Homo sapiens: one gene and its partners. The protein of the gene in region 1 interacts with the protein of each later gene in a pairwise test. Each region holds a gene or a part of one and is shown in the gene's direction. Other genes may lie near its edges.

Region 1 (3,500 bases):
CTTTAGTCTTTATCTCCACGCTTCCATACGTCTGAGGTTCAGTCGGCGCTGGGGGCAGGAGCAGGAGGAGGTGGTGGTGAGGATGATTTCAAAGACTCCGGTGTCTGCAGGTCACTGTGAGGTTTTCAGGGCCTCACTCTAGGTCCTCCAGCAGGCTGGGTCTGGGTGTGCGAAGTGGGCTCTGCTGATCTGGTGGTCCTGCGCGGTAACGGCCACGCGGCCTGGCCGGGAGCCACCCCTGAGCAGTGGGTCTCAGACTCCACCCATGGCTGCTCTTTGGTCTCAGGCTGCTGACTGACTGGCGTTTCACCCGAGGCGTGGAAGAGCAGACCAAAGCCTTCCTGGATGGCTTCAACGAGGTGGCCCCGCTGGAGTGGCTGCGCTACTTTGACGAGAAAGAGCTGGAGGTGAGTGTCTGAGGTTGCTGGGACCCTGAGCCCCTGCCTCTGGGGCGATCCTGCTCTGTGATACGCTCACTGTGTACCCACAGACACTCAGCGTAAAACTCCCACTTCGGCAGGGCAGATGGGTTTGATTTGGGACCCACCCTTCCCCAGACACTTGTTTCAAGAAAGCAGGGACTTACATTACCCATATTATTAACGCTGACACCAAAAATAGCTAGTTGAATATGTTTGGGGTAATGTCAAGTGCTAGCGAGTGGACGATGCGCGGGGAGGGACCTGCCGGGGATGCTGACTGCCGCCTCTCCCCAGCTGATGCTGTGCGGCATGCAGGAGATAGACATGAGCGACTGGCAGAAGAGCACCATCTACCGGCACTACACCAAGAACAGCAAGCAGATCCAGTGGTTCTGGCAGGTGGGTCCCGGGCCCAGGCCTTGGCAGGGACATTTGGGCCATCAACCAAAGGAAACGGGTCCTGAGGAGGCCTCACGCGCAAGGACCTTCAGCTTTGGCCCTGTCCTTGCCTCCCACACCTTGCAAAAGGAGACGATAGACCAGCCTTGGGATGAACGGGGACAGTTCCAGCTGAGTGGTGGCCAGTGGATGTGACAGGAGGTCGTCAGTGGTCAGCCTTGGGCCAGCTGGTGTGCAGGGACAGACCTGCAGGCAGACAGCAGCTGCCACTGGTTGAGAGGTCCCCTGCCAGCCAGATGGGACAGGAAGGCAGGGGCTTGGCTCCAGAAACCAGAAAGAGCTGTCATCCTATGTATAATTAATGTGTTGATTCTTTTATACGTATGGGTTTTGTTGTTGTCGTTATGAAATACAGCATACAAAAAAAAATAGCGATTACAGGTATTCTTAGTACATGTCTGTGTGCATATGTACGTATACAAATTTTTTGTGGAGGTGAAATTTGTATAACATACAATTAACTATTAATTTTTTTTTTTTCAATAGAGACAGGGTCTTGCTATGGTGCCCAGCCTGGTCCTGAACTCCTGGGCTCAAGCAGTCCTTCCATCTCACCCTCCCAAAGTGCTGGGATTACAGGCGTGAGCCACTGTGCCCAACCCATTTAAGTTTTTTAAGATACACAATTCAGTGGCTTTCCACTTTGGGTTCCTTGGCTTCCCACCCAGGCCGAGGTGGGCAGATCACTTGAGGTCAGGAGTTCAAGACCAGCCTGGCCAAAATAGTGAAACCCTCTTTCTACTAACAATATAAAAAATTAGCCAGGCATGGTGGTGGACACCTGTAATCCCAGCTACTCGGGAAGCTGATGCATGAGAATCACTTGAACCTGGGAGGTGGAGACTGCAGTGAGCTGGACCGTGCCACTGCTCTGCAGTGAGCTGGACCGTGCCACTGCACTCCAGCCTGGGCGACAGAGCAGTGGCTTCCAGTACATTCACAGTGTTGTGCACCTGGCACCACTATCTAATTCTGGAACATTTCATCTCCCCAAAAACCTTATACCCATTAAGCAGTCACTCCCATATTTAGTCATCTCTAAAAGCAGAACGTGGATGGGAAGAGAATACCCAGCCTGAGGTGTCCCTGAGACCCAGAGATGTCCCATGGACTGGTGGGAATCTCATGCACACACAGCCTCTTAGCAAAAGCACTTCTGGGGTTTCTCAGGTTGGAGGCTGTCATCCCCTGGCCAACCTGGCTTTGTGTTCTCAGCCCCAAAGAGGGGCCCCGCTGAGCTAGAGAGCTCCACGTTCGGGCAAAGTACTGGGCCCCGTGGGTTGCCTGACTGTGCCTTGACTTGCGGACTTCCAGGTGGTGAAGGAGATGGACAACGAGAAGAGGATCCGGCTGCTGCAGTTTGTCACCGGTACCTGCCGCCTGCCCGTCGGGGGATTTGCCGAACTCATCGGTATGTTTTCTCTCGCCCTCTGGCGTCCTGGCTGGCAGTGCGGACAGCTCAGAGGGAGGGGGAAACCTAGTCTCTTCCTGGAAGCACGTCAGTGGGATGGAGAAGAGCTGTGGCCTCTGCATCCTGGGGCCGAGCCCATCTGTGGGTGGAGCCGGAGGATCCTGCTTTGGGAAGGGACGTCTCTGCTGACGTCGGCGTGTTTTACCTTGGATCACAGGTAGCAACGGACCACAGAAGTTTTGCATTGACAAAGTTGGCAAGGAAACCTGGCTGCCCAGAAGCCACACCTGGTGAGCCTGCTGGTTTTAGTGGGAGGTCGGGGGGCCTCAGACCCGATGAGCTCCTGGGACAGCCCAGTGGGTGTAGCAGCTTCATAGCCTCGAGTCTGGCAGCTTTTGCGTGGCCCTGGGGTGTTGGGTTGGAGAGATGGGGCTGTGATGGGCATCTGATCTACCGGGTTTTACATATGAAGCACTTCTGTTCCAGTAGTCCAAGAGCTACTGCCCCAAGTGTCCCCCGCAACCAATTTCCAGCTGTCCTGGCCCCTCCCTTAACACCCCATGGTCCAGGCACCTGCAATGTGAAGGCCTGACTGGCAGCCCCTGAGCCCTAGCCAGTGTGGTGCAAGCCCTGTGGCCCTGCTGCAGGCAGGCATGGTGGGGCTATCAGAGCCCTGGCCTCCTAGGGCTGACTGTCGTGCTTCCCCACTCTCAATAGCTTCAACCGTCTGGATCTTCCACCCTACAAGAGCTACGAACAGCTGAGAGAGAAGCTGCTGTATGCCATTGAGGAGACCGAGGGCTTTGGACAGGAGTAACCGAGGCCGCCCCTCCCACGCCCCCCAGCGCACATGTAGTCCTGAGTCCTCCCTGCCTGAGAGGCCACTGGCCCCGCAGCCCTTGGGAGGCCCCCGTGGATGTGGCCCTGTGTGGGACCACACTGTCATCTCGCTGCTGGCAGAAAAGCCTGATCCCAGGAGGCCCTGCAGTTCCCCCGACCCGCGGATGGCAGTCTGGAATAAAGCCCCCTAGTTGCCTTTGGCCCCACCTTTGCAAAGTTCCAGAGGGCTGACCCTCTCTGCAAAACTCTCCCCTGTCCTCTAGACCCCACCCTGGGTGTATGTGAGTGTGCAAGGGAAGGTGTTGCATCCCCAGGGGCTGCCGCAGAGGCCGGAGACCTCCTGGACTAGTTCGGCGAGGAGACTGGCC
Region 2 (3,500 bases), on another chromosome or scaffold:
ACCCCTTCTGTCCTGCAGGGCTCCTTGTGACTAACCCCTGCTGGCCACTCAGGCTCCACTTCCCATGGATCTCTCCCATTCTCACTGTGCCCCGGGCACATGGGCCCGTTTTTGAACTTGAAGCTCTTTCCCACCTCAGGGCCTCTGCACCTGCTGGCCAACCCTGCCCAAAGTGCTGGTCTTCCTCATCTTTCCGTGGCTGACTCCTTCTTGTCAGGCCTCAGCTCACATGTCACATTCTCAGAAGAGCTGTCCCCAGCCACTCCATGTACCCTGGCCTCTCCAAGCACTCTTGATCTCATCGGCCTATTTTAGTGTCTTTTTAGTACATATAATTATCTGAAAGTATTTATTTCCTGGTTTATTGTTTATCTCCCCCCACAAGAATGTAAACTACAGGAATGCAGAATCTTTTCTATTCTGTTTACTCCTCTGTCTCTAGTCTCTAGATTAATGGCAGGCGCATAGCAAGTGCTCAAAATTATTTGGTACACTTATTAACTCATAAATGGGTAGATTTTTTTTTTTTTTTTCAGAATTACCTTGAGTTCCAAGAGATTCTGGGATGGTGGTTTGAAATTTTCCATCTCTTTGGTTCCCCCTTTAGTTTCTCCCTTGTTGAACCAGAGCAGTTATGGGATTATTCTGTCCTGCCAATACTGAAGCAGAGGTTGACGTGGTACCAAAAAAAAGTTGTGTAGTTGCCTGCTTCTTTGTAGATGAATTCCATCCACTGGTGTCAACTCTTACAATTAAACTTTACTGATGGTTCTTTTTCCTTTCTTAGTTTTTTCTTATTGCAGTCATAACTCTTTTCTTATAATTTCCCCTTACAGTTTTCCACTTTTTTTGGGGCATTTCTCTTCATAGGGACTAGATAAGCCCTCACATTTGGAGATTTACATTGGGATAATTAATTTTTTCACCTAAGACAGCTGACTTAGTTTCAAAACTGAGAGGTACAAGGGCTGGGAGACAGAGATGGTGATGAGGAAAAATGAAAATCATGATTCTACCAATGCCATCTTGTTCTTGTCCTCTCATAATGAATAGGCATCTCACCAGAACTCTCGCCCACTTCATCCTGGCTCTTGCCTATACATAATGCTAAGAGATATTTGCAGAATCCTTTTGAAAGCTCATAGGCTGTAGAAGTTGGGACTCGCAGGTAAATAGAGCTATGGTCGATTTTCTGCTCCCAAGAAGGACCAACAAAACCCAATTTATATAAATAATAGTTTCCTGTATTTTATAGCCCTCTGAGGAAGGGACTTCCAGTCACTGGGAACAGACTCTAGCTCTCTGATTTCTTCAGGGTTCCTGATTTCCTAACTGATGTTTGTTTTCCTGTTCTTCAGATTCTGGAGGAAGCCGACCACCATTGTTGCCACCGGGAGGAAGATCCACATCTGCGAAACCCTTTTCACCCCCAAGTGGCCCAGGGAGGTTTCCTGTGCCTTCTCCAGGCCACAGAAGTGGTCCCCCAGAGCCTCAGAGGAACCGAATGCCGCCCCCAAGGCCCGACGTGGGCTCAAAGCCTGATAGCATTCCTCCTCCAGTACCTAGTACTCCAAGACCCATTCAATCAAGTCCGCACAACCGGGGGTCCCCACCAGTGCCCGGAGGCCCCAGGCAGCCCAGCCCCGGGCCCACTCCTCCCCCTTTCCCTGGAAACCGCGGCACTGCTTTGGGAGGAGGCTCAATACGTCAGTCCCCCTTGAGCTCCTCCTCGCCCTTCTCCAACCGGCCTCCCCTGCCGCCTACCCCCAGCAGGGCCTTGGATGACAAACCCCCTCCACCACCTCCTCCAGTGGGCAACAGGCCCTCCATCCACAGGGAAGCGGTTCCCCCTCCTCCTCCTCAGAACAACAAGCCTCCAGTGCCTTCCACTCCGCGGCCTTCGGCCTCCTCACAGGCCCCACCTCCGCCGCCACCTCCCAGCAGGCCCGGGCCGCCTCCTCTGCCTCCAAGTTCCAGCGGCAATGACGAAACCCCAAGACTCCCACAGCGGAATCTGTCCCTCAGTTCGTCCACGCCCCCGTTACCTTCGCCAGGACGTTCAGGTCCTCTTCCTCCCCCGCCCAGTGAGAGACCCCCACCTCCAGTGAGGGACCCGCCAGGCCGATCAGGTATGACAAGACGTGGAGTGAGTTGCTTCCAAAACCCAGCCTGCCCAAATGTACCAATAATCCTGTCAGTCAAGATAGTCTAACAAAAGCAGGCATAAGTAAACTCAGACTGCTTTGTGCTTTTAAGTGGCACACGACACGTGTGATCGTGACCTCGTGTAAACCCCGGGGGAAAGTGGGACCAATATTTCTGTTGGTGTTTTAGAGATGAGGACACTGAGTAGCTAATAAAGTTAAATGGTCACGAGCTAGTTAATAAAGAAGAGGCAAGAACTTTCATCTTCCATCTCTGAAGTGTACTTGCCAGTCCACTACCCTGCCTCCCTAGAGAGAATTTCGGCGGTCTTAATTGGGAAAATAAGTCCCCACCTCCCGCAGGAGGGCTCTGTTATTCCAACAAGAGGGGAAGTTCTTCAAGAGCTAATGAACTTCTCCTGTACTTCTCTCTTCATTCGCCAGGCTTTGAGGCCATTTCCCTATTCATTAAAGACTAATGTTTAAAAAGTCCATTTTGCTCTTTGTAATCTCTGGTACATAAATCCCTTGGAGAATCAAATAAAGGTATAGACTATCTTTACAAAAATACTCAGGCATAAACTCAAAATTTGCCTGCTGTCACATGGCTTGAAGAGCCTGCTGAAGCCCATCTGAGACCCTTCCAATGCCCCCATCCACAGTTGAGAAACCTTGATCTGAGGGACAAACTTTCAGAGTATGAAAGGAAATGTGAGGATTGCCTAGAGTTTGCCCTCTCCGAATTATAATAGGCATTTTTAGTAGAATATGCTCACTTGATGCGTTTTATAGTGGTTATGGATGAACTCAGTAGAACCACCCACTTTTAAAATTGAATCTCATCGTACAGACCTTATTATGTCTGGAAATGGGGCATTTTTTTCCTTTACGCAGAGATAAGAGACCTTTGACCCTGTGACCTCAGGAACCTCATAATCACCATTCTTTAAACTTGCTCACGTACTGGAATCATCTGCGGAGCTTTAAAAACCACCAATGCCTGGGTCCCTTCCCGGAGTCTCTGGCATAATTGGTCTGGGGTGCAGACTGGGAATCAGGATATTTAAAAGCTCCCTGGTGATTATAGTGTGCAGCAGAATGTGAGAACCACACCTTGAAACCATTGTGCCATGGCCCTACCAAATGGATGAGTCAGCAGATTAAATCTTCCCCAAAATATGACAGGCATTGACATATAACATTTATTATTTCTTTTGATTACGTAAGTCATACTTGTTTATTATAGAAATACTGAAAAATATAAAGAAAATTAAAATTAATCCTTCTACCACCACTATCCAGAAATAATCATTGATAACATTCTTTTAATGTGTCCTTTCAGTCTTTTTAAAATGC
Region 3 (3,500 bases), on another chromosome or scaffold:
GCTGATGGAGAACACAGAGGACTGGCGGCCGCGGCCGGGGACAGGCCAGTCGCGTTCCTTCCGCATCCTTGCCCACCTCACAGGCACCGAGTTCAGTAAGTGCCAGCCCAGGGCAGGGGGTACTTTCCTCGCCCCCAGCCCAGGCGTGATCCCTGACCCTGTGTCTTTTTTGGTCAATGCCTGCCTCTGCCCTCTCAGTGCAAGACCCGGATGAGGAGCACCTGAAGAAATCAAGGTACAGGGACGGGCACCAGCCCCTCTCCCACCTCCTGCCTCTTCCATTCCAGCTACTGCCCTGTGTCTACTCCTGAGGCTCCCAGCTGGGGCTCTCAATTCTCCCTTCCTTCCTTCCTTCCTTCCTTCCTTCCTTCCTTCCTTCCTTCCTTCCTTCCCTTCCTCCTTCCTTCCTTCTTTCATTTCTTCCCTCCCTCCTTCCTTCCCTCCTCCCTCCCTGCCTCCCTTCCATCTCTCCTTCCTTCCACTTCTTCCTCCCTCTCTCTCTGCCCCTCAGGGAAAAGTATGTCCTGGAGCTGCAGAGCCCACGCTACACCCGCCTCCGGGACTGGCACCACCAGCGCTCTGCCCACGTGCTCAACGTGCAGTCGTAGCCCGGCCCTCTCCAGCCGGCTGCCCTCTCTGCCTCCCTCTTTCTGTTCCTCCTGCCCAGGGCACCCCCTTAGTGCCTCCAGCTTCTGCCTACCTCACCCCCCCTTTCGTGCCCCTGGCCTGAGCCTCCTGCTGGCCTGGCCCTGGCCGCCCACCTGGGTTCATCTGACACTGCCTTCCCTCTTTGCCCTGTGGTACTGCTGTCTGCCAGGTCTGTGCTGCCTTGGGCATGGAATAAACATTCTCAGCCCTGCTTGCTCTGCCTGTCTTCTATCTTTGTGGACCTGGTTTGCATTTGGGGTGTGGGGGTGTTTCGTGGTTCGGACTGTTTGGGCCCTGCCGTCCTCGTTTTCAGTGGGAGGGGGTACCTGGCAAAGGGGCCCTGCCCTGCCATCACAGATGGCTTCCTGGCATGAGGGGAACCCCAGGAGCTGCCTCAGAAGCGGGAGCCCTGCCTCGTCTCCCAGCTAGAGACCGCACACCAGCTAACTGGACATTGCTAGGAGAAGCTGCCCTTCCCATCCCTACCCCAGTGGGACCTGGAATCCAACTCGGCAGTTTCCACGCCCCCAGTCATCTCCCGTGGGGCCAGCAGGACCCAGGTTGGGGGGTGGGGCCATGTCAGGAAGCTCAGCCATGCAGGGCCTTGAATGGCAGATCTTGCAGCCAGGTGCCCAGGACAGAAGCCCCAGCCCCAGCCTCATCTACACCCCAGGAGCCCTGGCCTGGTGAGAGGGAGTGGGCTCGGGCCTGGGCAAGGGTGGGCAGCCTCCAGGGGCATGGGGGTGGTGGGCTTCTCTCAGCTGCCTGGGGCTCCACCCCCGTCCTTTGGGGTCCCTGGGCACCCCTTTAGAGTCACTTTCCCCGGCAGGCCCTACCGCCCCCAGCCCTACCAGCCGCCCGCCCTGGGCTGTGGACCCTGCGTTTGCCGAGCGCTATGCCCCGGACAAAACGAGCACAGTGCTGACCCGGCACAGCCAGCCGGCCACGCCCACGCCGCTGCAGAGCCGCACCTCCATTGTGCAGGCAGCTGCCGGAGGGGTGCCAGGAGGGGGCAGCAACAACGGCAAGACTCCCGTGTGTCACCAGTGCCACAAGGTCATCCGGTGGGTGGCCTGTTCCTGTCCGACCCTGGCTTTCCCATCCTGCAGCCCAGCCCCACCTGTCTGCCCACCTGTCTTGCCTCAGCTGCGACTGGGGGGAATAAGGATTCAGTTCTCAGCTGGAGTAGGAGTAGGGACCTGGGCTGGGTCCTCCCATTCTTAATCCCACGCTACCTACCCCAGCCCACCCACAACAACTGCTAGCAGCATCTGCCGTGGCGAAATAGCCGAAGGGCCAACCATAGGCTGAAGCTGCACCCCTACCTTTGCTGCTCTCTGGGCAAAGAGGGGCCTGCCCCCTCCCAGCGCGTCTGCCCCTCCCTCCTGCTCTCTGTCTCCCTCTGCTCTCAGAGCATACAGGCCTGGAGCCACTCCCTCTGTGCACTGCCCCGTGGGGCCAAGCAGCATCAAACACCCCCCAGCATCAGCGTGCCGGATTCTAGAGCCTTCCTAATTCGCAGGCCTGGCCTGCTCTCATCTCTGTCAGCTCTTTTTTTTTTTTTTTTGAAACAGAGTCTCACTGTGTTGCCCACGTTGGCGTGCAGTGGCGCGATCTCGGCTCACTGCAACCTCTGCCTCCTGGGTTCAAGAGATTCTCCTGCCTCAGCCTCCTGAGTAGCTGGGATTACAGGCACCCGCCACCATGCCTGGCTAATTTTGTATTTTTAGTAGAGACGGGGTTTTACCATGTTGGCCAGGCTGGTCTCAAACTCCTCACCTCAGGTGATCTCAGGCCTGCCTTGGCCTCCCAAAGTGCTGGGACTACAGGTGTGAGCCACTGTGCCCAGCCGACTCTATCAGCTCTTGCCAGGTAGAACAGGCAGGCCAGCAGGACAGGGCAGCTCCAGGGTTTGCCCAGGGGCGGCTCAGCTTTTATGAGGCTCCAGTCGTCAGCCCTTCCTCCCGGGGTCCTCCCTGCTCTAAAGCTGCCTCTCCTGTCACCAGCAGTTCAGTGTGGCGGACTGGCTCTGTAAGCTTCACGGCTGCCACGGTCACTTCCCAAGCCTGTCTTCTATCCTATGTGGAAAATGGGGAGAATGAACTGTCCCTCCCAAGGCCTCCTGGTGGGTGGTCAGTCAACCTGAAGGGGGCCAAGACCCCCACCTCTCTGCGTGTGCTCCCTCTGACCGCTCTCGCCTCCCTGCAGGGGCCGCTACCTGGTGGCGCTGGGCCACGCGTACCACCCGGAGGAGTTTGTGTGTAGCCAGTGTGGGAAGGTCCTGGAAGAGGGTGGCTTCTTTGAGGAGAAGGGCGCCATCTTCTGCCCACCATGCTATGACGTGCGCTATGCACCCAGCTGTGCCAAGTGCAAGAAGAAGATTACAGGCGTGAGTAGGGCTGGCTGGCGGGGAGGTGGTCCCAAGCCTGTCAGTGGGAACGAGGGCTGCTGGGAAACCCACAGTCCAGGTCTCTCCCCGAGTGAGCCCTCCGGGTCCTTACCAGCGTAATAAATGGGCTGCTGTACTGGCCTCACCCTGCATTAGTCAGGATGCTCTTAACAAATGACCATGTTCCTGCTCAGAAACCGCCCAAGGCTGCAAAGAGCAGGAGGACCAAGCCAGGAGAAGCCCTGGGCCCTCCTGACTCCCACTTTGGGCTCTCCCTGCCCTGGTGAAATGACAGAACGGCCAACTTGACACGCTGAAGCTGCTCTGTCTCATGCGTCCTCCTCATTTCTGGATCCAGAGCCAGGGCTGCCAGGAGTAGCCAGAGAGCTCTGTGTGGTGATGTTCATATTAGTGAGGTTTACCTTGACCACGAGCAGTGGGAAACTCAAAATAATGGTGGCTT
Region 4 (3,500 bases), on another chromosome or scaffold:
CTGAAGGTGGTCAGGAGGGCAAAGGTCATGGTGGCCATTGTTATATGGTGGTGGTGGGGAGAGGTGCATGCCTTCTTCTTGACACTCTCTGGTGACCCTCTCGGTGGAACCTGCAGACCCTTGATGGGTCCCTTTGTTCCCTTGGGCCTCCTGAGTCCCCAGCCAGGGCGCTGGGCACTTTGCTGGGAGCTTGGCATGGGGTCCAGCAGCCCCATTGCTACCTAGTTCCTTACCAGCCCAGGGCGTCTGCCTGCTACTTCCCTGCCTGGAAGGAAGGCCTTCCGCCTGGAGCGTTCCTGGTGTGGCCTCCGCTGCCTCTCAGACTCTCACACAAGCTCAGCTCCCTGTCGCGTCCTCTCAGGGCCAGGATTCTCCTTATCACAAGCTTAGACTGTCTGAGTAACTAATTGGATTTGTGTCTGCCTCCACACAGGACCCTAAGACCCGTGGGGCTGAGACTCCTTCTGTCCTGGTCACAGCTGCACCCTAGCCCCTCGCATGGTGCGGTCACACCCAGGCCAGCCACTGACTAGCCCCGAAGGGGAGCAAACAGGAGGCCGGCCACCTGACTGAGGCCCCATGTCTTCTCCCTGCAGGCCGTCCCCTTTTCTGGGACTATCCAAGGGGGTCTCCAGGACGGATTTCAGATCACTGTCAATGGGGCCGTTCTCAGCTCCAGTGGAACCAGGTGTGTGTATATGGATGGAAACGTTTCACTCCAGCCTCGTCCCTTAGTAAAGCCACTGTGCCTGTGAGCCTCGGTTAGTTCAAACAACAACATCCAAGCTCACGTGCCTGGCGCAGGGGAGACCCAATGCATCCTTAACCCATGCCACAGGACAGCACTCCACAGGCACAACCTGCACCCAGGGATGCCATTAACCTGGACTCCAGGATGAATGGGGCCCTGGGAGCTGAAGGTCTAAGGAAGGAGTGGGATGGTCAGAGTTGGATGATTATGTTCTGGGCTGAACCTTGCACACTGTGACTGAGAGTTGCAAAAATCAAACTTCCTCCGTTTCCCATAACTGCTTTCATCCACTCTGAAGCTCTCCTTCTGCTGACATGAAAATACTGAAAATTGACATCCGAAGTAATTTGGTCTCTTTCGGTTTCAAGGCCTTTTCTGGAAACTACTAAGTCCATTCAAAATACTAACATTGTATCAGGGCTGTTTCCCACCCCTTCCTCCCTCCCAAGGTGGGCTGTCTGGGAACAGAGAGGAGCTCACGTGGCTTGTCAGTGGCTGGGAGGGCCCCCGACCCTCACGCAGGCCTGGCTGACCCCTGCCGAGGCATCCTGACTGGGTGGCACAGAGGTGTGCAGCTCTCTCCTGGTTTAGTGAGGGACCACGGGTGGCTGCCTGCTGAAGTCTGCGGGGCCCACAGAAGAGCCTCTGGACTCATGGCTCTCTCTCGGAAGCCTCTCTGCCTCAGTCCCAGTGGACCTCTCTTAAGACCCTCTGGGCCTCGTAGATGCCAGCTCAACCTCAGCTCCGCCACCTAGATTCTTGATGACCTCCTCCGCCATTGCTATCCTGCTGTCGGACTTCTCTGAGAGCCTGCAGTGCCCCCAGGAGATGCCAAGGGCAGGGAGGCCCTGATCCCCCTGAATCCTCCAACCGGGGGAATCAGAACCATGCCTCTGATCTTCCACCCCTTCCTCTTTCCCTCTCCCTCTGTTTCCCCCACCTCCCAGCACCAGGAGGGCTTCCCACTCCCATCCTGTTGCACAGAGACAGATCCTACCTCAGAGGGCCCTCTCCTCTCAGGAGCTTTCTGTCTCTCCCTTCCTTGGGGCAGGAATTTCCAAAGGGCCACAGGAATGAAGCTGAAGGTCTCCAAAGGAAAAAAATACATGCAGTGATATTTCAAATGCAATCTTCTCCATTTATTCATTTAATTAATTTATTTTTTTCTTTAGAGACAGGGACTTTTTTCTTTCACCCAGGCTGGAGTGCAGTGGTACGATCATAGCTCACTGCAGCCTCGACTTCCTGGGCTCAAGGGATCCTCCCATCTCATCCCCCAGAGCAGCTGGGACTATAGACATGCATCATGATGTCTAGCTAATTAAATATATATATATATCTTTTTGTTTTTTAAGTAGAGATGAGATCTCGCTCTGTTGCTCAGGCTGGTCTTCAACTCCTGGGCTCAAGTGATCCACCCACCTTGGCGTCCCAAAGTGCTGTGATTACAGGCGTGAGGCACTGCGCCCGGCCCCGATTTCACATGCTCTTTACATTTGTTCTCTTCTTTCGCACTTAATCAGGCATGTGCTGGCCTCCAACAAGTGTCCACTGGCACAGAAGCCTCTCTCTTCTAGGTGTGCTTAACAACTTCCATCTTTGTTACCAACTGGTAATCACTTTCCAGGACCTATGCTTCTTGTTTGCTAATGCCAGCACTTTCCCTTAGCCATTTTCTACTTATGTTTAGAAAATCGTGCTGTAAAGGCAAAATGCAATAATCGCACAAAAACACATTGGATCCAAATTAGAGAAACAAAAACGATGCCAACCAAGCAGTCTCTGCCACGCAGGTTGTATGCAAGATCCCAGACAAACACAGGGCAGAGGCACCGAGGCCCTCCTGTGCCTGTCACTGGCAATAATCCATGCCACAGAAGACTATTTGCTTTTCCTGGGCCTAGGTTTGCTGTGGACTTTCAGACGGGCTTCAGTGGAAACGACATTGCCTTCCACTTCAACCCTCGGTTTGAAGACGGAGGGTATGTGGTGTGCAACACGAGGCAGAAAGGAAGATGGGGGCCCGAGGAGAGGAAGATGCACATGCCCTTCCAGAAGGGGATGCCCTTTGACCTCTGCTTCCTGGTGCAGAGCTCAGATTTCAAGGTAAGCAGGAATCCCCTCCCCACCTCTCGCCCACGGGACTCCCAGCCCTATCAGGTGAATGTGAATGGCCTTTTAAGTAACCACTTTAATTGACATTCAGCCAGAGTGACACCACCATACAGATAACATGACCATTTCCTTGTAAGGGTGTTACCCATGGCTGTGTAGTCTCCTTACGCACCTTCACCTGAATCTACAGGTGCACCTCCTGCTTCTTTTACTCTGAAAATAAGAACTAGAGGAGTCATCACGTTGCTGTTAGGTGTTGTGTGTCTTTGAATTCCAAGCTCATTCCATTCCTCTGCTATCACCATACCTCCTCTCCAGGTCCCTGGTAACATTTATTTTTCAGCGACATTGTTCCAGCCTTTATCCAGAGTCTATTACGGTTATAGTTCTGTAAGCACATTGCAAATTACCTTTGCAAGCACAGTAGGTCTCTGGGCTTGAGAAGCCGGTGGGTAACTCAGTCTGAATATGCTTATCTGAGATAAGGATGTTCCCATCCATTCAGTATGCAACCCGATGTCACCTCTCCTCTGCTCCCCGTGAGCATTTTATGCATATTTAAATAATACCCCTGCAGTCCTAAAAAGGAATGAGATCATGTCCTTTACAGGAACATGGATGGAGCTGGAAGCCG
Region 5 (3,500 bases), on another chromosome or scaffold:
CCCTGGGAAATTCACCCAGCCTGACCTGAAGCAGTTGCTGAGAGGCAGAGGAGCAGCTCCAGGTGTTTTGGCAGGGAAGCAGCTGGCAGCTGTGCGGGAGCCCCTTGCCTCCCGTGTTCTTACTGAGGAGTGTGTGGGGCAGCTCGGGACAGGTTTCACTTTGGACAGTGGTTGGAGGCTGCTTACTCTGGCAGAGTCATCTCAAAGAGCCTTGGTGTATGTGCAAAACGGGGCCATCTGCATGGGCGTTGGGAAGATCACAGAACCTGGACCCTTAGGATGACCCAAGGGTCAGTTGCATACTGTTTGTTTTTGTGGAGTCAATGTCCCATGACGGTTTTCGCGATGCTTTGCTAGTAGGAGCAGTGGCGTGTGAGGCTCCCGGTTAAATACCATGAGATTCTAAGCGGAATTCTGGGTCTCCTGGTATGCACAGGTAAAATTACAGTAGACCTGTCCCACTCTTTGCCAGAACCTCGTACTTGTCTGCAGTTTGACTGGAATAAGGGGTGTTTGTGTTCCACCTCCCTCCAACGTGTGTTGAGACATTTATTTATTTATTTATTTATTTACGTTGCTCTTGTTACCCAGGCTGGAGTGCAGTGGTGCAATCTCAGCTGCTCACCGCAACCTCTGCCTCCCTGGTTCAAGTGATTCTTCTGCCTCAGACTCCCGAGTAGCTGGGACTACAGGCACGCGCCACCAGGCCTGGCTAATTTTGTATTTTTAGTAGAGACGGGGTTTCTCCGTGTTGGTCAGGCGGGCCTGGAACTCCGAACCTCAGGTGATCCGCCCGCCTCAGCCTCTTAAAGTGCTGGGATTACAGGCGTGAGCCACTGTGCCTGGCCCCAAGACATTGATTTTATTTGAGATGAGGTCTCACTTTGTCACCCAGACTGGAGTGCAGTGGTACAATCTTGGCTCACTGCAACTCCTTCCTCCGGGGCTCCCACCACAGCCTCCTGAGTGACTGGGACCAGGGGCACGCGCCACCACACCCAGCTAATCTTTGGTAGTTTTGGTAGAGATGGGGTTTCACCGTGTTACCTAGGCTGCTGTCACACTTCTGGCCTCAAGCAATCCGCTCGCCTTGGCCCCCCAAAGTGTTGGGATTACAGGCGTGAGCCACTGCGCCCAGCTGTGTCGAGACATTTAATATTTGTCAATCTGATGGATTGAAATGGTAGGTCATTTGGGCTTTCCCTGCAAGCTCCACCTTCCGGGTTCACGCCATTCTCCTGCCTCAGCCTCCTGAGTAGCTGGGACTACAGGCGCCCGCCACCACACCCGGCTAATTTTTTGTATTTTTAGTAGAGACGGGGGTTTCACCGTGTCAGCCAGGATGATCTCGATCTCCTGACCTCGTGATCTGCCCGCCTCGGCCTCCCACAGTGCTGGGATTACAGGCTGAGCCACTGCGCCCGGCCGGGTTTTCTGTAATTTCTAGTGAGGTTGGACATCTGTTCCAGTTACCTACTGCTACGTAAAAGTCGCGGTCACCTCAAGTCAGACACCATTCTTAAAACAGTTAACACAACCATTTTATTATATCTCACAGCGTTGTGGGTTAGGAATCTGGACAGTGAGGGCAGGGTTAATCTTCAGTTCTGTGCCACCAGCTGGGATCACTTGAGGGTGCTTGGCTGGCATACGGGTTAGTCTGGGGACCACTGCCCCCTTTCCGGCATCCTCTGTGGGTTCCAGCATTTTTCTTTTTTTTTTCTTTTTGAGATGAAGTCTCGCTCTGTCACCCAGGCTAAAGTGCATTTGTGCGATCTCAGCTCACTGCAACCTCTGCCTCCTGGGTTTAAGTGATCCTCATGCCTCAGCCTCCCAAGTAGCTGGGATTACAGGCGTGTGCCACCATGCCTGGCTAATTTTTGTATTTTTTTTTTGAGATGGAGTTTCACTCTTGTTGCTCAGGCTGGAGTGCAGTGGCGCGATCTCGGCTCACTGCAACCTCCGCCTCCCAGGTTCAAGCGATTCTCCTGCCTCAGCCTCCCTGGTAGCTGGGATTACAGGCATGTGCCACCATGCCCAGCTAATTTCGTATTTCTAGTAGAGATGGGGTTTCTCCATGTCGGTCAGGCTGGTCTGGAACTCCTGACCTCAGGTGATCTGCCTGCCTTGGCCTCCCGAAGTGCTGGGATTACAGGCATGAGCCACCGTGCCCGGCCTTTTTTGTATTTTTAGTAGAGATGGGGTTTCACCATGTCAGCCAGGCTGGTCTTGAACTCCTGACCTCAAGTGATCCACCCGCCTTGGCCTCCCACAGTGCTGGGATTACAGGTGTGAGCCACTGCACCCAGCTGGGTCCCAGCATTTGCGGGATTCAAGGTGGGGATGTGCAGTCTGTCAGGAGTGTTAAAAGCACGGCAGCATTTCCAGTCCCCAGGCCTCCTCTCCTTGCTTCAGCCACGCCCACCCTCCTCTGTGCCTGCTCATGCCCATGTGCTTCTGTTGGGCTGTCTGCTGGTCCACAGGAGGATTACTGGTGTTCCGGATTTTCAGCATGAACACAGTATGGGGTCTGGCCCGAGGAGGGCCTGGCTAACAGAGCATGGATTCAAAATCAGAGCAGAGCTGGGTACCGTGGCTCATGCCTGTAATCCCAACACTTTGGGAGGCTGAGGCAGGTGGATTGCTTGAGCTTAGGAGTTTGAGACCAGCCTGGACAGCATGGCAAAACCCTGTCTCTATAAGAAAAACAAAAAACAAAAAACAAAACCCAGGTGTGGTGGCACGTGCCTGTAGTCCTAGCTACTTGCGGGGCTGAGATGGGTGGATCGCTTGAACACAGGAGGTTAAGGCTGCAGTGAGCCGAGATCGTGCCACTGCACACTAGCCTGGGCGGCGGGAGTGAGACCGTGTCTCAAAAACAACAACAACAACAACAACAACAAAAAAACAAAAAATGGACCGAGGTTGGGGTGGCAAGGCTGGGCTGGAATGGAGGCTGAGGACAGGCCCTGGCAGCGCCCGGGGGTAGAGGGCGTGCAGCAGGAAGCAAGGGCCACCCTCAGGGATGGGGGACTGGGCCTGGCAGCTGCCGAGGGGTAGGCAGGATGCATGTGGAGAGCCACGTGGGGCTGCGGCTGAGCCAAGGATTGTGAGAGGAATCCTGCTGCTCTGGGTGGCAGGCAGAAGGCCTGGGCCACAGGTGGGGCCTGCTGGGGAGACCACAGGTGAGGCAGGTATGGCTGACCCTGGGCGCTCGGCACACCGGTACTCCTCCTGCCTGGCTGCTCCCTCAGCAGGTGTCAGAGTCTGAGTCACCTTTTCCTCACGTGACCCCCACCAGGACCAGGCAGGGAGGTGGCCATCTTTGGCCCTGACTCAGCCCTGCAGGGAGAAGAGGGGCTGGAGGTGCAGGTGGCCTGCCACTGTCTCCCCCAACCCCTGCCCACCTGGGTCTTGTGCTGTGTGTACTTCTGCTGCGTCTGTCCTCCCTTGTGACCAGCTTCTGCTGGACCTGATTGTCCAGCCATGATCTTCTGATC
Region 6 (3,500 bases), about 58 Mb from region 1:
GAAGTATTTTTCCCATTGCCCATGCAGGGAAATTATATAAATTTTATGTCTGCACCAAAGGTATTATGTTTAAAGAGATAACAGTTTCTGTTCTGGGAGAAAAATCTGAGGAAACACAATCAATTTTTTGTTTCCCACCAAGCAGGTAAAAGTAGCTTCCTTATACCTGGCCACGTGAGCCACTCAGAAAACCCCAAGGGGCTCCATTCTTTTCCTTGAAGGAAACGGTGTTTGTGAGTTTCAGGAGCCTCATGCAACCGGCACGTTCCTCCACATTGTCCTTTGGTGACTTGAGGTTGAGAAGGAACAATATTTCTCTTCCTAACTTCAATAAGAGGCTCAGAGTCCCAGAGAGTTTAGTTAACTTCCTTGAGGTCATGTGTTAAATAAGGAAGGAAGGAGACAAAACAGCTTTCTGGGCACCTGATTCCCCCTCTTGCCCACAGGACTCTGCTGTTGTTTTCATTCTGTGGGCAGAAAATGCTTAAAAAAAAAAAAAGTCCATTGCCTCTGGATATTTGTATTAAAACAAATTTTTTATCTTTGGAATCAGGGAAAGATGGAATAGAAACTTGTTTTGTTTTGTTTGAGGCTGAGTCTTGCTCTGTTGTCCAGGCAGGAGTGCAGTGGTACGATCGTAGCTCTCCGCAGCTTTGATCTCCTGGGCTCCTGCAATCCGCCCAGCTCAGCCTCCTGAGTACCTGGGACCACAGGTGTGTGCCACCATACCTAGCTAATTTTTAAATTTTTTTTTTGTGTGTGTGGAAGCAGGGGTTTTACTATGTTGCCCAGGCTGGTCTTGAACTCCTGGACTCAAGCAGTCCTTCTGCCTTGACCTCCCAAAGTGCTGGGATTATAGAGGAATAGAAACTTACATTGAGTATTGGCCTCTGCCAGTCTGGCTTTAGAAATTGAGGCAACCTTTCTTTCCCTCCCTTTGTTCCTTCCTTAAACATGGTAGAGTGGGTTCAAATCCTGCCTCTCACTAGCTGTGTGGCCATGGGCAAGTGACTTTACCTCTCTGTGCTTCAGTTTCCCCATCTGTAGACGGGGGTGCGGGGCAATAACGCCCACCTCAGGGCCTGCTGAGGATGAAATATGTGTGTGTGCTGCCTGGAGCCGTGCCTGCACCTGTAAGCCATAGGTTAGGATTCCTGCTGAATGGATTGACTGCCCTTATTTGAGCTCTGGAAAGCTTAGGCAATAGGAGGAAATTTCTTTCATGAGATAATTTCCTCATCAGAATATTTCCAAATTCTGCTTTATGTAAACCAGCGTCTTCCTGTGAAGGGTTGAGTTTTAACTCCATTTTTGGCAAACATTGGTTGTCAGGCGGTCTGAGGTTCCTGCCTGTGTGTGCCAAAGGTGGATTATGTAGGTTAAGAGGCATTATTTGGGGAACTCTACTTGGTTGCTGTAAGAAGCAGCCTGTCTATATGGAAAAGAGATCAGTAAGACGGGGGTTGGCAAAACGACCCTGGAGCCAGGCGCCTGTTTTAAGTTTTACGGGAACACAGCCACGCCTGTTGGTTTTTGGATTCTCTGTGGCTGTCTTCTCATTCCAAGGGCAGAGTTGAGCAGTTGCAACAGAGACGCCATGGCTCATCAGGATGAAAGTATGTGGCCGGGTGTGTGGTGGCTTCCACCTGTAATCCCAGCAATTTGGGAGGCGGAGGTGGAAGGATCACTTGAGGCCAGCAGTTCAAGACCAGCCTGTGCAACATAGCAAGACCCCATCTCTACAAAAACAAACAAAACACAGCAACAAAAAGACTAAAAGATCTACTATCTGTCCCTTTGCAAAAAAAGTTCACCAAGCCCATCTAAGACTTTGAAAGACTCCCAAATGACCCCAGATTTGAAAATAATACTCAAAGGGGCTCTGTCTGTAGGAGGAGCCTTGGCATTGGCTGGCATGTTAATTTCCTAGGGGTGTCATCACAAATTACAACACACCTAGTGTTTAAAACAACAGATATTAACTCTCACAATTCTAGAGGCCAGAAGTGCAAAATCAAAATGTCAGCAGGGGCCGGGTGTGGTGGCTCTCGCCTGTAATCCCAGCACTTGGGGAGGCCAAGGCGGGTGGATCACTTGAGGTCAGGAGTTTGAGACCAGCCTGGCCAACACGGTGAAACCCCAACTCTCCTAATAATAAAAAAATTAGCTGGGCCTGGTGGCATGCGCCTGCAATCCCAGCTACTCAGGAGGCTGAGGCAGGAGAATTGCTTGAACCCAGGAGGAGGGAGAATTGCTTGAACCCTGGGCGACAGAGCGAGACTCCATCTCAAAAACAAAACAAAACAAAACCAAAAACTAAAATGTCAGCAGGGCCACGCTCCCTCCTAAGGCTTCAGGGAGAATCATTTTTTGCCTCCTCCAGCTTCTAGTAGGTCCAGGTGTCCTTGGCTTATGGCCTCATCACTCCAGCTTCTGCCTCTGTCTTCACATTTCCTTCTGCCCTCTCTGTATCTCTGTGTGTCCTCTCCTCTTCTTCTAAGGTCATTGGGTTTTAGGGGTCCGCCTGGATAATCCAAGATGATCCCATCTCAAAATTCCTAATTATACTGGCAAAGACCCTTTTTACAAAGAAGGACATGAACATGGTTTTGGCAGCCAGTGTTCACCCTGTTGTGATCAGTAACGCGCTCCGTGTGTCTCTCTCTCCTCCCAGGTGCATAGCGGGCTGCTGCTTCATCCCCTTCTGCGTGGATGCCCTGCAGGACGTGGACCATTACTGTCCCAACTGCAGAGCTCTCCTGGGCACCTACAAGCGTTTGTAGGACTCAGCCAGACGTGGAGGGAGCCGGGTGCCGCAGGAAGTCCTTTCCACCTCTCATCCAGCTTCACGCCTGGTGGAGGTTCTGCCCTGGTGGTCTCACCTCTCCAGGGGGCCCACCTTCATGTCTTCTTTTGGGGGGAATACGTCGCAAAACTAACAAATCTCCAAACCCCAGAAATTGCTGCTTGGAGTCGTGCATAGGACTTGCAAAGACATTCCCCTTGAGTGTCAGTTCCACGGTTTCCTGCCTCCCTGAGACCCTGAGTCCTGCCATCTAACTGTGATCATTGCCCTATCCGAATATCTTCCTGTGATCTGCCATCAGTGGCTCTTTTTTCCTGCTTCCATGGGCCTTTCTGGTGGCAGTCTCAAACTGAGAAGCCACAGTTGCCTTATTTTTGAGGCTGTTCTGCCCAGAGCTCGGCTGAACCAGCCTTTAGTGCCTACCATTATCTTATCCGTCTCTTCCCGTCCCTGATGACAAAGATCTTGCCTTACAGACTTTACAGGCTTGGCTTTGAGATTCTGTAACTGCAGACTTCATTAGCACACAGATTCACTTTAATTTCTTAATTTTTTTTTTAAATACAAGGAGGGGGCTATTAACACCCAGTACAGACATATCCACAAGGTCGTAAATGCATGCTAGAAAAATAGGGCTGGATCTTATCACTGCCCTGTCTCCCCTTGTTTCTCTGTGCCAGATCTTCAGTGCCCC
Region 7 (3,500 bases), on another chromosome or scaffold:
GGACAAGGAATTGTTCTCAGCAGTATCTTTTCTCCTGCTTATCTCATTTATTATTACAAATTCAACCATTTTATTGTTCTATCCATCGCTTTTAAATTGGGGTAGAAGTTACAGTGAAAAACACAAATCTTAAGTGTGCAGTTCATTATAAGTTTTGACCAATGTATACATTCATTTTGACAAATGTATACACTCATGTTATACTCCAAACAATTTCTATACTCCAAACAAAATATTGTTTGTTGTACTCCAAACAATATTTCTGTCACCCTAAAAAGTTCTTTAGTGTCTCTTTTCAGGCAGTCTCTACTCTCTCATAGGCAACCACTGTTCCTGTTTCTTTCACCATGGGTTAGTTTTGCATGTCCTTGAACTTCATGTAGATGGAGTCACACGGTTTGAAAGTTTTTGTGTCTGACTTATTTTGCCCAGTGTAATGTTGTTGAAATTCATCCATATTTTTATATTGTATCTGTTGTTTGTTCCTTTTTTCAGGACACTATTTCATTTTATAAAAATACCAGAATTTTTTTGTTTTTTTGTTCTCTTGTTGATGGACAGTTAGGTTGTTTCCAGTTTGGGGGTATTATGAACAAAGCTGCTGTGAGCATTATTGTTTTGGGGAGGCAGTTTTCATTTCTCTTGAGTGAATACCTAGGCACGGAGCTGCTGGATGATGCGGTGCTAAAGAGTTTTCCAAAGTGGTTGGGGAAGTGAGTATTTTTAATTTAAAATGGATAGTCAGTTCCTTCATTAAAGGGCTTAAACTCACCAGTGACTGGTGAATTTCTACCAGTGGCTCTCCACGTCTCCACCAGCAAAGAGAGTTTCTCTCTTTTTAAAGTTGTGCCAGTCTGATGAAGCCAGAGTGAGAGCTTGCTGTCACTCTAATTTGTAGTTCCCTGAGTGCTTAAGATGGCATCATCATTTTTTAAAAAGCTCTCCAGAAAATTCAAATGTACAGGCAGGATTAAGAATGCTGCTATTGAAAGGTGACAGGGGGAAGACAAAGATCTGACCTCTTCAGGCAGTAGCACCAAGAATGCAGGGTGGATGTTCATTATTTAGGATCAGGGAGACTTCTACAAATTTGTTTGTGGATAGGCTAAAGTGACTGATGAGAAGTGAGAATAAGTTTTTAGAAATATTGGGCAGAGATGGGATTAAGAATGGAGGTGAAGGTATTAGATTCTGCAAGGATCAGGAATAGGGGAGAAGGAACGCACAGTGCACAGTTGCCTGGAATCATTTTGCACAGTGCCTGAGGTTTCTTTGTATCCAGTGGGAAAATTAATTGGTATTCGTGATCATTTGTATAATGAGTAAACTTTCAAATAGGGTTGTTTAAAGGGACTGAATTTCACCCATCTGGAAAATTTTGCCATCCAGACTGGCTCACTCCAGAGGTGCCAGGTAGCTGAAGTTTCTGAAGAGCTGGACATCTATGTTATATGGTGTGTGCAGCCCACATAGGCCTGGTTTCCCACTTAACTAAACGCTTTGTATCAAGAATGGACTTGTTTGGGAAGGGAATATTTTGTAAGATGATGCCTAGTATTGTCTGAGAGAGATAGAGCTTTCAGGTTAAGATCTTGAGGCTTGCACCAAGTGCAAAAAATGAAAATCAGAGTGCATTGTGTTGGGGAAAAAAAAGTGAGTTTGGTTCCTTTTGGGGAAGAGTGGGACTCATGTACACGAGCAGAATGGAGGCTGATACTTCATCTCATTTAGCTGCTTGTTTGTTAGTACTAAACAGGATTAGTATGAAAACAGGAAGTTCTCAGCTGGAGACTTTAAAGGAGAAAGGAGGAATATTAAAATTCCCTTTGTTTTGTGAAAGCCACTGAAATTTAGGTTTTGGTTGTTACCATGCTATACCCTAGCCCATCCTGACTGATAGAGGCATTGCCTGACACAGAACCCTGCCATCATCTCATTCTACAGGATTGGTGCTCCATGGTAGAGCCAGGGTATTTTTTCTTAATAATTAAAGTATTTTTTTTTACCTTTCCTCCGTTAAGGTGGACTTAGGTGAAGGCAAGATTTGCTTCTGTTGTGAAGAATTTCAACCAGCCAAGTGCACAGACAAAGAAAATGCCTTGAAACTCTTTCCGGTTCAGCCCTGTAGTGCTGTTCACCTTCTACTTAAGGTACCTCAAACAGATTCCCACCCGCACGGTAAATACACCACGGAGCCCCCAAAGAAGGCAAACTTACTTGAAATATTCCTGTTCTATTACCTCCCTCAAACAATTAAGCTGCTGAAAGCGCATGTGAGTGACCCCAGAGACAGAATTGAATGCAGAAAGAACCACAGATTATTGTGTGTGTTAAATTATGTATGGACAGCTTTCTTTGTGTTGAAGAACTGTAAGATAGTAAAAAATGGAAAGGAGCCTGACTATATATATGTATATGTATACACATACACACATATTTCCACATATAAACATATGCATACGTACATATGTATACCTACACACACATATACGGTGTAGCTTTTAGCAAAACCTTTAAGTCGCACACTCGTGTGTCATTGTTCTGATGCTCATTTGTTTGCTTACATGGGTCATATGGGCCACTGAGTACTACCAGTCTGCAACACGTAGACTAAGGAGAGAGATTGGCCAGAAAATATGGGGGAATTGAAGCACCTTAGCTCTTGTTTAATAAGCAACAACTATAATAAGCCAAAGGTATTAAACAAACAGATGATCCCAGTTGAAGAGAAATACAAAATTAGCCTTCATCAGGGAATTGGATAAAAATTGTGCCCTGACTTAAGGAACATTAGCTCAGTGAGTGACAAAATCAACTGGTGAACCCTGAGGTATGGCTTTTTGAGAGTCCACTTCTGCCGGTTTTCTTTAGATATTTGTTTTGGGTTTCATTTTGGTGGGGAGGAAGAATCTCCAAGGAAAGAGAGAACTGTTCCAAGCTACCAGCTCTGGGTTGTGTGGGATGTGGAAATGGCCTGCTTTCCATGGCTTCTGCATTTTTGGTAGCTGAGTCACCCCCAAACTTTCTGAGCCAGGACTTAGCTTGGGGAAAGCCCCACTCAAGGAGCCAGGACTGTACCAACAGAAGCGTTTGGAATGGCCTTTGCTATTTTGAGATGTGTGTTTAGTGGAGAGAAGTCCTATTTACACTCTGGCTGGGCCAGCTCCTTCAGTGTCCTCGTCGTGTGCATGGGGCAGCACAGCCAATTGCTCTTGAAATAGAATTAGTGGCCACAAATTAAGCAGTGTGCTGTGCTGGTGGGAGGCTGTGGGAGGGAGGAGGCTGGGAATTGCTATCCCTGGGGAAATCAGCCTCAGAAGAGAAGCTCACTGCTCTCCTGGAAGGAATGTTTCTCGACAGTATTCTGATGCTTGCAAAAAGAAATACTATCATACCACGTTGTTCTGTGACAGAAAGCTTCTAAGATAAGTTTTTGGAATTAAGAAGTACACATTATTGCATGAGGGTCATAATAATAGCCAGCATTTATTTGGGCACTT

The links.
Region 2: the proteins of WWP2 (region 1) and WIPF1 interact in binary tests that used the Homo sapiens proteins (3 or more experiments, as listed by UniProt).
Region 3: the proteins of WWP2 (region 1) and PDLIM7 interact in binary tests that used the Homo sapiens proteins (3 or more experiments, as listed by UniProt).
Region 4: the proteins of WWP2 (region 1) and LGALS9B interact in binary tests that used the Homo sapiens proteins (3 or more experiments, as listed by UniProt).
Region 5: the proteins of WWP2 (region 1) and ARRDC1 interact in binary tests that used the Homo sapiens proteins (3 or more experiments, as listed by UniProt).
Region 6: the proteins of WWP2 (region 1) and LITAF interact in binary tests that used the Homo sapiens proteins (3 or more experiments, as listed by UniProt).
Region 7: the proteins of WWP2 (region 1) and ENTREP1 interact in binary tests that used the Homo sapiens proteins (3 or more experiments, as listed by UniProt).

Annotation. Positions count from the first base shown.
Region 1 is NC_000016.10:69,936,832-69,940,331, forward strand, and holds part of WWP2 (NEDD4-like E3 ubiquitin-protein ligase WWP2), read left to right. Parts: intron 1-286; coding exon 287-407; intron 408-716; coding exon 717-821; intron 822-2,195; coding exon 2,196-2,292; intron 2,293-2,509; coding exon 2,510-2,582; intron 2,583-3,009; coding exon 3,010-3,109; 3' UTR 3,110-3,500. UniProt on the Homo sapiens protein: E3 ubiquitin-protein ligase which accepts ubiquitin from an E2 ubiquitin-conjugating enzyme in the form of a thioester and then directly transfers the ubiquitin to targeted substrates.
Region 2 is NC_000002.12:174,570,305-174,573,804, reverse strand, and holds part of WIPF1 (WAS/WASL-interacting protein family member 1), read left to right. Parts: intron 1-1,358; coding exon 1,359-2,129; coding exon of another isoform or gene 2,130-2,212; exon of another isoform or gene 2,213-2,636; intron 2,637-3,500. UniProt on the Homo sapiens protein: Plays a role in the reorganization of the actin cytoskeleton. Contributes with NCK1 and GRB2 in the recruitment and activation of WASL.
Region 3 is NC_000005.10:177,487,605-177,491,104, reverse strand, and holds part of PDLIM7 (PDZ and LIM domain protein 7), read left to right. Parts: coding exon 1-95; intron 96-198; coding exon 199-235; intron 236-511; coding exon of another isoform or gene 512-608; exon of another isoform or gene 609-859; intron 860-1,073; exon of another isoform or gene 1,074-1,272; coding exon 1,273-1,334; intron 1,335-1,477; coding exon 1,478-1,712; intron 1,713-2,856; coding exon 2,857-3,037; intron 3,038-3,500. UniProt on the Homo sapiens protein: May function as a scaffold on which the coordinated assembly of proteins can occur. May play a role as an adapter that, via its PDZ domain, localizes LIM-binding proteins to actin filaments of both skeletal muscle and nonmuscle tissues.
Region 4 is NC_000017.11:20,457,540-20,461,039, reverse strand, and holds part of LGALS9B (galectin-9B), read left to right. Parts: intron 1-596; coding exon 597-688; intron 689-2,655; coding exon 2,656-2,857; intron 2,858-3,500.
Region 5 is NC_000009.12:137,608,686-137,612,185, forward strand, and holds part of ARRDC1 (arrestin domain-containing protein 1), read left to right. Parts: intron 1-3,500. UniProt on the Homo sapiens protein: Functions as an adapter recruiting ubiquitin-protein ligases to their specific substrates. Through an ubiquitination-dependent mechanism plays for instance a role in the incorporation of SLC11A2 into extracellular vesicles.
Region 6 is NC_000016.10:11,548,920-11,552,419, reverse strand, and holds part of LITAF (lipopolysaccharide-induced tumor necrosis factor-alpha factor), read left to right. Parts: intron 1-615; coding exon of another isoform or gene 616-697; exon of another isoform or gene 698-713; intron 714-2,674; coding exon 2,675-2,783; 3' UTR 2,784-3,500.
Region 7 is NC_000009.12:69,373,715-69,377,214, forward strand, and holds part of ENTREP1 (endosomal transmembrane epsin interactor 1), read left to right. Parts: intron 1-2,021; coding exon 2,022-2,150; intron 2,151-3,500. UniProt on the Homo sapiens protein: Functions as an activator of the E3 ubiquitin protein ligase ITCH in the ubiquitination of the CXCL12-activated CXCR4 receptor. Thereby, triggers CXCR4 endocytosis and desensitization, negatively regulating the CXCL12/CXCR4 signaling pathway.